2 linked regions of the Homo sapiens genome follow. The protein of the gene in region 2 interacts with the protein of the main gene of each other region in a pairwise test. Each region holds a gene or a part of one and is shown on either strand. Other genes may lie near its edges.

What was found. Proteins that work in one complex are often made in the same cells at the same time.
Region 1: the proteins of ATXN7L1 (region 2) and SP4 interact in a two-hybrid assay, tested with the Homo sapiens proteins (one large-scale study listed by BioGRID).

Annotation. Positions count from the first base shown.
Region 1 is NC_000007.14:21,475,593-21,480,746, forward strand, and holds part of SP4 (transcription factor Sp4), read left to right. Parts: intron 1-1,486; coding exon 1,487-1,715; intron 1,716-5,154. UniProt on the Homo sapiens protein: Binds to GT and GC boxes promoters elements. Probable transcriptional activator.
Region 2 is NC_000007.14:105,638,338-105,643,491, forward strand, and holds part of ATXN7L1 (ataxin-7-like protein 1), read right to left. Parts: intron 4,785-5,154; coding exon 4,501-4,784; intron 1,233-4,500; coding exon 1,150-1,232; intron 273-1,149; coding exon 16-272; intron 1-15.

The DNA.
Region 1 (5,154 bases), about 84 Mb from region 2:
AGCTGGGACTACAGGCGCCCGCCACCACGCCCGGCTAATTTTTTGTATTTTTAGTAGAGGCTGGGTTTCACCATGTTAGCCAGGATGGTCTCGATCTCCTGACCTTGTGATCTGACATCTCAGCCTCCCAAAGTGACATATTTTATTCTTGTATTGCCACTGAACTCAGCAGAGATGAATTGGTAACAGTAGCTACCATGTAATGAGCAATTCCGTGCCAGCACTCTGGTAGAGGATTTGTAAATTTACTTAATACTTACATCAACTTTCTGAGGTAGAAACATTCTTTCATAAATTGGTATTTTCTTTTCAGTCCATTCACATACTTGTTATTCCCACACCTGATGGAGAGAATGTAGAACTGTGTGAAAGAAAAGATAATTATAAGGCATTGTAGGCCGGGCACGGTGGCTCACACCTGTAATTCCAGCACTTTGGGAGGCCAAAGCAGGTGAATCACCTGAGGTCAGGAGTTTGAGACCAGCCTGGCAAACATGGCAAAACCCTGTCTCTACTAAAAATACAAAAAAAATTAGCTGGGCATGGTGGCACACGCCTGTCATCCCAGCTACTAGGGAGGCTGAAGAAGAAGAATTGCTTGAACCCAGGAGGTGGAGGTTGCAGTGAGCCGAGATCGTGCTACTGCACTCCAGCCTGGGCGACAGAGCAAGACTCCATCTCAAAAAAAAAAAAAAAAAAAAAAAGCATTGTATTTCAGGATAATGTTAAGCCATGCCAATAGATTTTTTTATTGTTGTTTTATTGTGCATTATTTATTATATTTTTCCCAAAGTGAAGAAGCCAAGCTGGTATATATACTAATCTGAGTGATGAAGTCTAAGCTATATAACATGAATGAATAAAGTAATAATATCTTAAATGTCTTTTTATGATTACAGTGACAGTATGTAGTAATCTTGGGTGGTTTTGCATTTCAAAAACCACTTTATGTATACACTAAAAAAAGTCGAATCAATAAAGAGATGTTTATTTAAACTATTTAGGAATGCAAGATGTCCATAAAACTTAATCCTTTGTTTAGTGACTTTTCACTCCTGTATTTTCTTGTTATGATAAGATATGTTGCTTACCGTGGAAATGGTAATAAAGCTTTGTGTTTATATAACATCTTTTAGGATCTCAAAATGCTTTTAGACTATCTCATGTATCCTCATAGTATTTTAGTGAGTAGGTAAGTGGCAAGTATTATCTTCATTTTACAGATGGAGAGAGAAATTAAGCCACAAAGTGAGTTAAATGATGTATGTATATAGTTCCGTTATCTAGATACATAGGCAACCTGAGCCACTAAAGTAAGAATACTATATTTTAGAAGGATTGACATAGTATAAGCCATTAACCCCTTAGTTTTTGTACTTTACACAGATTGTTAGAAAAAATTTATTATGCACATAGATTTTTTTTTTTAATCCTTTCTTTAGGTGTAGAAAACATTACAATACTTCTTTTTTTTCTTCCTTTTTAGGTCAGCAGCAAGGACAAGATGGAGTAAAAGTCCAGCAAGCTACTATAGCTCCTGTAACTGTAGCAGTTGGAGGAATTGCTAATGCCACGATAGGTGCTGTTAGTCCTGACCAACTCACACAAGTGCATTTGCAGCAAGGCCAGCAGACTTCTGATCAAGAGGTACAACCTGGCAAGAGGCTTCGAAGAGTTGCCTGTTCCTGTCCTAATTGTAGGGAAGGAGAAGGAAGGTAAATGCTGTATTTTTCAACTGTGTCTATTTGGAAGGCATAAAACAGCAGTTAAAACCAAGTAATTGGCTGGGAATGATGGTCACTAGAACTTCATTACCTTTGTAGCCTAGAAGTTGATATATAATATTAGAAAGGGAATTAAGTTGGGCTATTTTAGGAATGAAATTTGAGCGGTCCTCCGCCTTGTTCCTTACACTTTTAAAAAATATTTTTTCTTTCTTCCCCACCCCTCCCCCACCCCAACAAGATGGAGTGTCACTCTGCTGCCTAGGCTGGAGTGCAGTGGTGCAATCTCAGCTCACTGCAATCTCTGCCTCCCGGGTTCAAGCGATTCTCCTGCCTCAGCCTTCCGAGTAGCTGGGATTAAGTACAGGTGCCCGCCACCACACCCGGCTAGTTTTTGTATTTTTAGTAGAGGCGGGGTTTCACCATGTGGGCCAGGCTGGTCTCGAACTCCTGACCTCAGGTGATCCACCCACCTCAGCCCCCCAAGTGCTGGGATTACAGGTGTGAGCCCCCTCGCCCAGCCCATTTTTTTTCTTTTTCATAAAATATTTACGTAACTTTATTGATATAAAACTCATTCGTACACCATACAGTTCACGAATTTAAAGTGTACAATTCAGTGGTTTTTAATATATTCAGAGCTGTGTAGACATGACTACAATCAATTTTAGAGTGTTTTCATCATCCCCAGAATAAATTCTGTATCTTTTTTAAGCATCACCCCCTTATCCCAATCCTTCCATCCTAGACAACTAATTTCTGTCTTTATAGATTTGCCTTTTCTGGACAATTCATATAAATGGAATCATGGTCTTTTGTGACTGGTTTCTTTTAGCATAATGTTTTCAAGGTTCAACCATATTACAGTATGATCAATACTTCATTCCTTTTTAGGGACAAATAATATTCCACTCTATGGATATACAATATTTTTGTTTATCCTGTCAATTGAAGGACATTTGGTTTTATCCACCCACTGGCCGTTATGAATAATACTGCAGTAAACATTTGTGTAGAACTGTTTGTGTGGGCATATGTTTTCATTTCTCTTGTATTTATATGAAATTACCTAGAAATGGATTTTTGGGTCATATTGTAATTCTATGTTTAACCATTTGAGGAACTTACCGACTGTTTTCCAAAGTGGCTGTACCATTTAACATTTCCATCAATAGGGTATGAAGGTTCCAGTCTCTCTAGATCATTGCCAGTACTTGTCATTATCTGACTTTATGATTAAAGCTATCCTAGTGAAGTCATATGTCACTGCAGTTTTGTTTTTACTGATACTAATGATATTGAGCATCTTTTCTTGTTCTTATTGGCCATGTTTGTATCTTTGGAGAAATGTTTATTTGGATCTTTTGCCCATTTTAAATTATATTATTTATTTTTCATTATGGAATTGTCTCTTTATATATTCTACATACAAATTCCTTATCAGATATACAATTTGAAAATATTGTCTCCTGGCTGGGCGCAGTGGCTCACGCCTGTAATCCCAGCACTTCGGGAGGCCAAGGCAGGTGGATCACCTGAGGTCAGGAGTTCAAGACCAGCCTGACCGGCATGGAGAAACCTTGTCTCACTGAAAATACAAAATTAGCCAAGCATGGTAGCGCATGCTTGTAATCCCAGCAACTCGGGAGGCTGAGGGAGGAGAATTGCTTGAACCCAGGAGGCGGAGGTTGCAGTGAGCCGAGATCGCGCCACTGCACTCCAGCCTGGGTGAAAGAGCGAAACTCCATCTCAAAAAAAAAAAAAGAAAGAAAAAAGAAAAATATTGTCTCCCATTGTGTGAATTGTCTGTATACTTTCTTGATAGTGCCTTTGCACCAAAGTTTTAATTTTGAAGTCTAGAGTTTTCTATTTTCCTTTATTGCTTCTGCTTTTGGTATTGTATCTAAGAATTCATTGCCAAATCCGAAGTCATTAAGATTCCTAGTTGTTTTTTTTTTTTAAGATAATTTTATAGTTTTTACTCTTACATTTAGGTCTGTGATTAATTTGGGGTTAATTTTTACGTATGGTGTTAGGTAAGGGTTCATCAAGCACCAGTTGTTGAAAAGACTGTCCTTTCTCCGTTGAATGTTCTTGGCACCCATGTCAAAAATTAGTTGACCATAGAACATGGATTTATTTCTGGACTTTCAGTTGTATTCCATTGATCTATATGACTATCTTTATGTCAGTACCACACTATCTTGAGTACTTTGGATTTGTAATAACTTTTGAAATCGAGAAATGTGAGTCCTGCAGCTTTGTTATTCTTCAAAATTGTACTGACTCTTTCGGGACACTTGCAATTCCATGTGAATTTTAGAATCAGTTTGTCAGTTTCTATAAAGAAACCAGATGGTATTCTGATGGAAATTGCATTGAATCTGTAGATCACTTTGGGGACGGTTGCCAGCTTAACAATATTACATCTTTTGGTCTATGCACATGGGAAGTATTTCTGGTTGTTTAATCTTTAACTTCTTTCATCAATGTTTTATAGTTTTCAGAGTATACATTTTGTACTTTTGTTAAATTCCAATTTTATTTCTGATGCTATTATAAGTTGAACTGTTTTCTTGATTGTTCAAGTATGTAGAAATACATTTTTTAATGTATTAATCTTTTATCCTGCAACTTTTGCTGAACTTTTTGATTAGTTATAACAGTTTTTTTGTTTGTTTGTTTGTTTGTTTGTTTAGTAGAGTCTTTAGGATTTCTGTGTATAAGGTCATGGAATCTGTGAACAGAGATAGTTTTTACTTTTTCCTTTCTACTCTGCAGGAGTTCTGTTTCTTTTTCTTGCTTAGTTTCTCTGTCTGGAACCTCTGGTACAATGTTGACAGTGTGCTTGTATTTTGTTGAGGATTTTTGCATCCATATTCATAAGAGAGATGTCTGTGGTTTTCTTTTTGTATTGTTTTTATCTGATTTTGGTAATGATAATACTGGCTTCATAGAATGAATTGGAAAGTATTCCCTCCAAACTGGTATTAATTCTTTAAATGTTTTGTGGAATTTACCAGTGAAGCTGTCTGTTCTTGGGCTTTTCTTATGGGTAGTTTTAATTACGAATTCAGTCTAGTTGCTTGTTGTAGGTGTATTCTGATTGATTATTTGTTCTTGAGTCAGTTTTAGTATTTTGGTCCGTATTTTTCTAGGAATTTGTCCATCTCCTCTGAGTTACCCAAGTAATTGCCGTAGAATTGTTCATGGTATTCCTTTGTAATCCTTTTTGTTTCTATAAGGTTGGTAGTGATATCTCCTCTTTGATTTCTGATTCTAATAATTTGAGTCCTACTTTCTTGGTCAGTCTAGCTAAAAGTTTGTTAGTTTTGTTTACTTTTCCCAAGAATCTCAATATTTGACATTTTTTCTGACCCTAAGAAGGTTCTTCACAGCCTCTTTGCTCACTTCTTTCTGGCAAACTAGC
Region 2 (5,154 bases):
CAAGGTGGTACTTACCTAGGAAGTACAGAGTTGGGTGGTCTGGATTTTGCAGGGGATGCAACTTTTGGTTCTGGCCCAGAGCTCCCTGAAGACCCTAGCAGAGAATCCTGTGCCGGCCCGGATTGGCTTGGAAGTATTTCCCTCGTGGAAGTCAGGAGATGCTCTTTATCTTTAACTTCTTTTTCCCGGGACTTTGCTTTGTGTTCTGCCAGGAGGAGGTCAAATTGCTTTTTCCGGCCTGGGACTGCCCTCCGATGGCTTAGCGAATGTGTCTAAGGAGAAGAGAAATGAAAAGCACAGCCTCTTTGATCAGCACATAAACCTGCTTCCCCAGGCCCTCCATTTCAGAAATAGCAATTCATGGAAATTTAGAGGTGCTTGAAAAGTCAACTTCAAGGCAACAGCTCCTGTTCTGTGGCTAGGAAGAGGCAGAGACCACACGAACGCAACCATGCCCTACACTCCTGGTGTTAAGAAGCCAAAGCTTCCTCCAAAAAATGGCATAGGATGACGAGCTTCAGCGCAGAACCCATGAAAACCTCTCTGATGAAAGGCAACTGCGAGGGAATGCTAGAGTTAATCCAGGTGCAGGTGGGAGGCTCGATTCGGCCCAGACAAACAGAGCCACCAAGCAGAGAGGGCCATCGCCTTGATCCCAAGAAGCACTAGCAGTTCAGCATGAAATACAGGGCTTTGGGCGACCCAATGGCGGCCGCCTTGGGTCAGCTGTTCCCCTGGCCACCCCGGTGTGGCTGGATCAGGGGCGCGGCATATCATCCTCCCCTCCAGGGCTGCCTTTCAGGGCGCTGCCGCCGCCGCCGCCGCCGCTGCCGCTGCTCCTGCATACATTAAAACGTAGCAGGCTTTAGAACCGCCTGTGAGTGCCTATAAATACAATTTACTGTCTGGCCTCACAAGTAACAGGGGAAGCCTAGTTTTTTTTTTTTTTTTTTTCTCCTTCTTAAAAAGCCAGCCAGCTTGAGGCAGGCACTCTGCTACCATGGACGAGAAGAAAGCATTTCCCTTACAAAGAACAGCTGGGGGTCATGTCGAGGTTCCACACCCTGCCGTGTGCAGAGAGTGGCATGCAAACATTTCGACAAAGGCCCCAGCGAGAGCAGGAAGTATTTTTTATGGAAAGAGAAATACCTTGCAGGTGAGGGATCTTGTGCAAGGTTTCTTTGTCTCGGGATCCAATACTCCACAGTGTTTATTTGGGTCAAATTCTCTCTCTGGTTTAAGAAACAAACAAAAAATATAAGAAAAAAGGAGACTAAATAGGATTTGGCATTAAGACTACATTTTTTAAAAAATGCACATTTGCACCAACAAGTGAGACATTGTCAGGCAATCTGTTTTTTGTTTTTTTGTGTTTTGTTTTCTCAACCAGCTGCTAAAAGTCTTCCAGAACCGCTCGGGGAAAATGGTGCTCCCCTCTGAACCCAGAGTTCCCAAGTCTAGCTTCGGCAGCACCGCCGAACGCAGCACAAGGCTCGGGGAATAGGGCGGGAGCAGGCACCGAAGGGAAGGAGAGGAGCCGTGCTGCTCTTAATGCTCTTAACGCTTTATTTTACTTGCAATGGTTCCACAGGTCCTTGGCATTTGGGCATAGCTGGCTGCAGACCAGGGAGAGCCACCTGAGACCCAACGACCCCTTTCCTGGGCTGCTCCAAGAGTACAGACACCCTGACTCCAGCTCCTGCCTTCCTGCTAGTTTTAGCCATGTAAATGGGAGATTACTCCTTGACATGTCAGAGTGACCTGCCTCTCTCATGCTTGACAAAGCTCTCGGCGCAGGCTTTGCACACAGCCTTGCTGACCACAAACACCATTTACCTGATTGAGGGGCACTCTAGCAGTGTTACAGGCAGGGGCAGGGGAGAAGGCTGAACTTGAAGGTGCAGAGAGGGCAGGGGCCTGCTAATCTCACAGCTGCTCCCCGCCCCCACTGCCCTGGGTCTGATGCTTCACGTGGGAATAAAACGGGGCAGGCTGCCCCACCAGGATGAAGGATGTCTGTGCGGAGAGGCCAGGCTTCCCCAGCTCCTGCCTTCCAGTTGACTGTGGACAGCTTGTGCGGAGGTTACTTCTAAGGAGCCTGCTCTTTCTATACCCATCTTGGGTCCTTCACCCCTGCCAGGAAGACAATCATGCTGTCCTCACCTTAAAAATGAGGGGATGTGAGGTGATCTCTTTTTTTCATTTTTATTTTTTGAGACAGGGTCTCGCTCCGTTACCCAGGCTGAAGTGCAGTGGTGGGATCACAAGGCTCACTGCAGCCTCGACCTCCTGGGCTCAAGCCTCAACCTCCTGAGTAGCTGGAACTAGAGGCATGCACCACCACACCTGCCTGATTTTGTTATTTTTTGTAGATACAGGGTCTCACTATATTGCCCAGGGTAGGTGATCTCTTAAGGATCTTTTGGGCTTTAAAATTCCACCTCTTGGATGGCCTGTGCCGTTTCTGGAAGGCACCGAGCAAACACATAAGTCCTGCAGAGCAGGAATGACACAGCCCTCTGGGCATGTGGGTAGACTGGCAGCAGTGTTGCTGGTGGTAGAGGGTGTACAGAAATTGGTGGTATCTCCTTAAGACCCTTGAATGGCTGCAAACTCAAAAAAGGTTCCTAGCTGGAAAACTGTCTGAAATTGGTGGAGTAAACTCCGAGCATATAACAATGCTCAGATTATACCATAATAAATGAATGTATTCTATTTTCAAAAGCTTTGAGGGTCATGGGGAGGTTGCAATGGTGTTACTGATGATATGCACAAGAAAACTACTCTATACCCAAGACAGATTCCCTGGCTGGTTACCAAAATGCCTCCCCCCTTTTTTTGCTTTTTGTCTGCCTTTTCTCTCTCTCTCTCTCTCTCTTTTTTTTTTTTTTTTTTTTTTTTTTTTTTAGCTTCACTTAGAAAAAAAACCTGCTAGGCCTGGAGATGCTGGTTTGCTCGGAGCCCTCTCTGGCCAGGCTGCCTGGTGTGGTGTTTTTTTTTTGGGTCTGTCAGAGTCAGGCCTGTGCCTGGTCCCACACCAGCGCCTCATGTCGACCTGGAGCTGAGCAGGCTGTTGGCTGAGGGTAGGAGCTGGCTGCCAAATGTGAAAGTGAGGCAGAAACAAGCAAAAGACCCGACGAAACAAGACAACCCACAAAATGCAAAAACAATGTGCGGCAAAAAAATCCCCAGACAACTTCAGATGGGGTTACAGGCTGGAAGCCACGGCCGTGCTTCTGCTATGGCGAGGAGCCCTCGGCCTCCAGCCACTGTGCCCACGCCTACCGGTTTTCTGGGGATGTTGCCACCACCTCTGAAGAGTGAAACCAAGCTTTCCATGCAGGAAGAGCCAGGTGCTGGGGGCTCCCGCCCGAACTGTGAGGCCCACAGTGCTTAGGGAGAGCACCAGGCTCTACCTTTCTTTCTTGACAGTGGGTGAGCAGCGCAGGCAGAGATGTGCAAGGTACAATGCCTGCTTTATCCGAATGCTTTGGGCTTGAGGGATTTTTCAGACATAATTTTAAAAAGAGTTACAGATGAAAGATAGAGAAACTAGAACTACAGACAAATACAGAGTAGACAATAAAAATTACCCACAATTCCTTGGGTGCTTAAAAATCAAGCTTAACCCGAGGACAGTTTCTCTGTCACAGGGTGGCTGTCACTGTATTTTACTTTCTCTGGCCACCATCAGGGAGTGCCCATGATGTAAGAAGAAGTTATGAAGTTTATAGCTTCTCCTGGTCTTTTGGAGAAAGTAAAAACTGCCACGTTTAGTTCTACAGCAGATCGATCCAAAGCAAACATTACCCACATAGGGGCCTCTAACAAATAACCATCATCCTGTGTGCCTCTTCTGGCACCCCAAGTGTCTGCTCAGACAACCAAGGAGTAGACCCACAAGAGACCGCCCCAGCACCCTATCGGCACTGCCAGCCCTACTGTTCCTGTTTGGGAATTCCAACCTGATTATGGGGGATCGACAGTTGTAAACTCAACTGCAGAATTAACCTGGAAACTCCCGAGGCCAAAGGACAGAGGCTGTGTGTCCCTGTGCAGCACAGCTGTTGGCGGGGCTGTCCCTCACATGCCTTGAGGCACCATGAGATCCCTGTGTGTTGTCCAGCTTCCCAGCAGTGAAGCTTCTATGGAAGCCAGGGCTAGTTCAACCTGTTTGTATGATACAGATACACAGAATCACCTGCTCACAAGACCCTCGGAATCTACAGAGTAGGTCGGTGCAGAGCACCCTGCCTCCTGGGTTGCTAGGGTAACTCCCGCTAAGCACTGAACTGAGTGAGGGACTTCATCTGCCCGGGGAAGAAGAGACCTGGTTTTCCCTTGCATTTTTAGGTGGGGTTCCTGTTTGCAGGTAAACTCTGCATCCCCCTTAAAATGAAACAGACCTGCTTAATGATAACAGCACATCACTCCTTCGTTATGGCTGCGACTCCCTTTCAGTCTAATCATGAGTCAGACCCTGACGACACTGACACATACCTGAAAGTCTCCTGTAAGGCTTGTTGCTGTTTTTGGTGCCATTTTGGTGTTTCTTGTCTATGGTGGTTGGCAGAATTCCTTTGCCATTTAAGATCTTCTCTGGTGAAGGTGGCACTGACTTGGACATCAGGACAGGCTTAATTAAAGGAGGGGTGGAGACGGCAGAGGACGAGGTGGAGGAGGCAGAAACTGCAGTAGTGGTTGTGGAGTTCATTTTGACATTGGCACCATCTGCCTTCACTAGGTTAGGAATTTTCTCTAAACTGACTACAGGAACTGGAACACTGAAAAATAAATGAACAAACACACACAATTGTCTTCTTTGATACATCTAGTCTGCTGAGGAACCATACCCGCTTATCATTATCAGAACATTTCCTTATCACTTATTTATACTCCTTCTATAAGCAAGCAGCATGAGTCCAGTTTTGATGGGAGAGAGTTCTGTGCCCTGGAAAGGATCAACAGGGGGTGCGAGGCTGGCACAGTGTCAGGGGTGGCATCAGGGCTGACTGATTACCGCCCGTGCTGAGCTGTCCCCATAGATCCTGCAACTCCCCACTTCCCGGGCCCTATAGGTTGGCCATTTCCAACACAGCACCTTGGGCAGAACAAGGCGCCTGTTGTGAAGCTCAGGAAGAGATACCGTTTGTC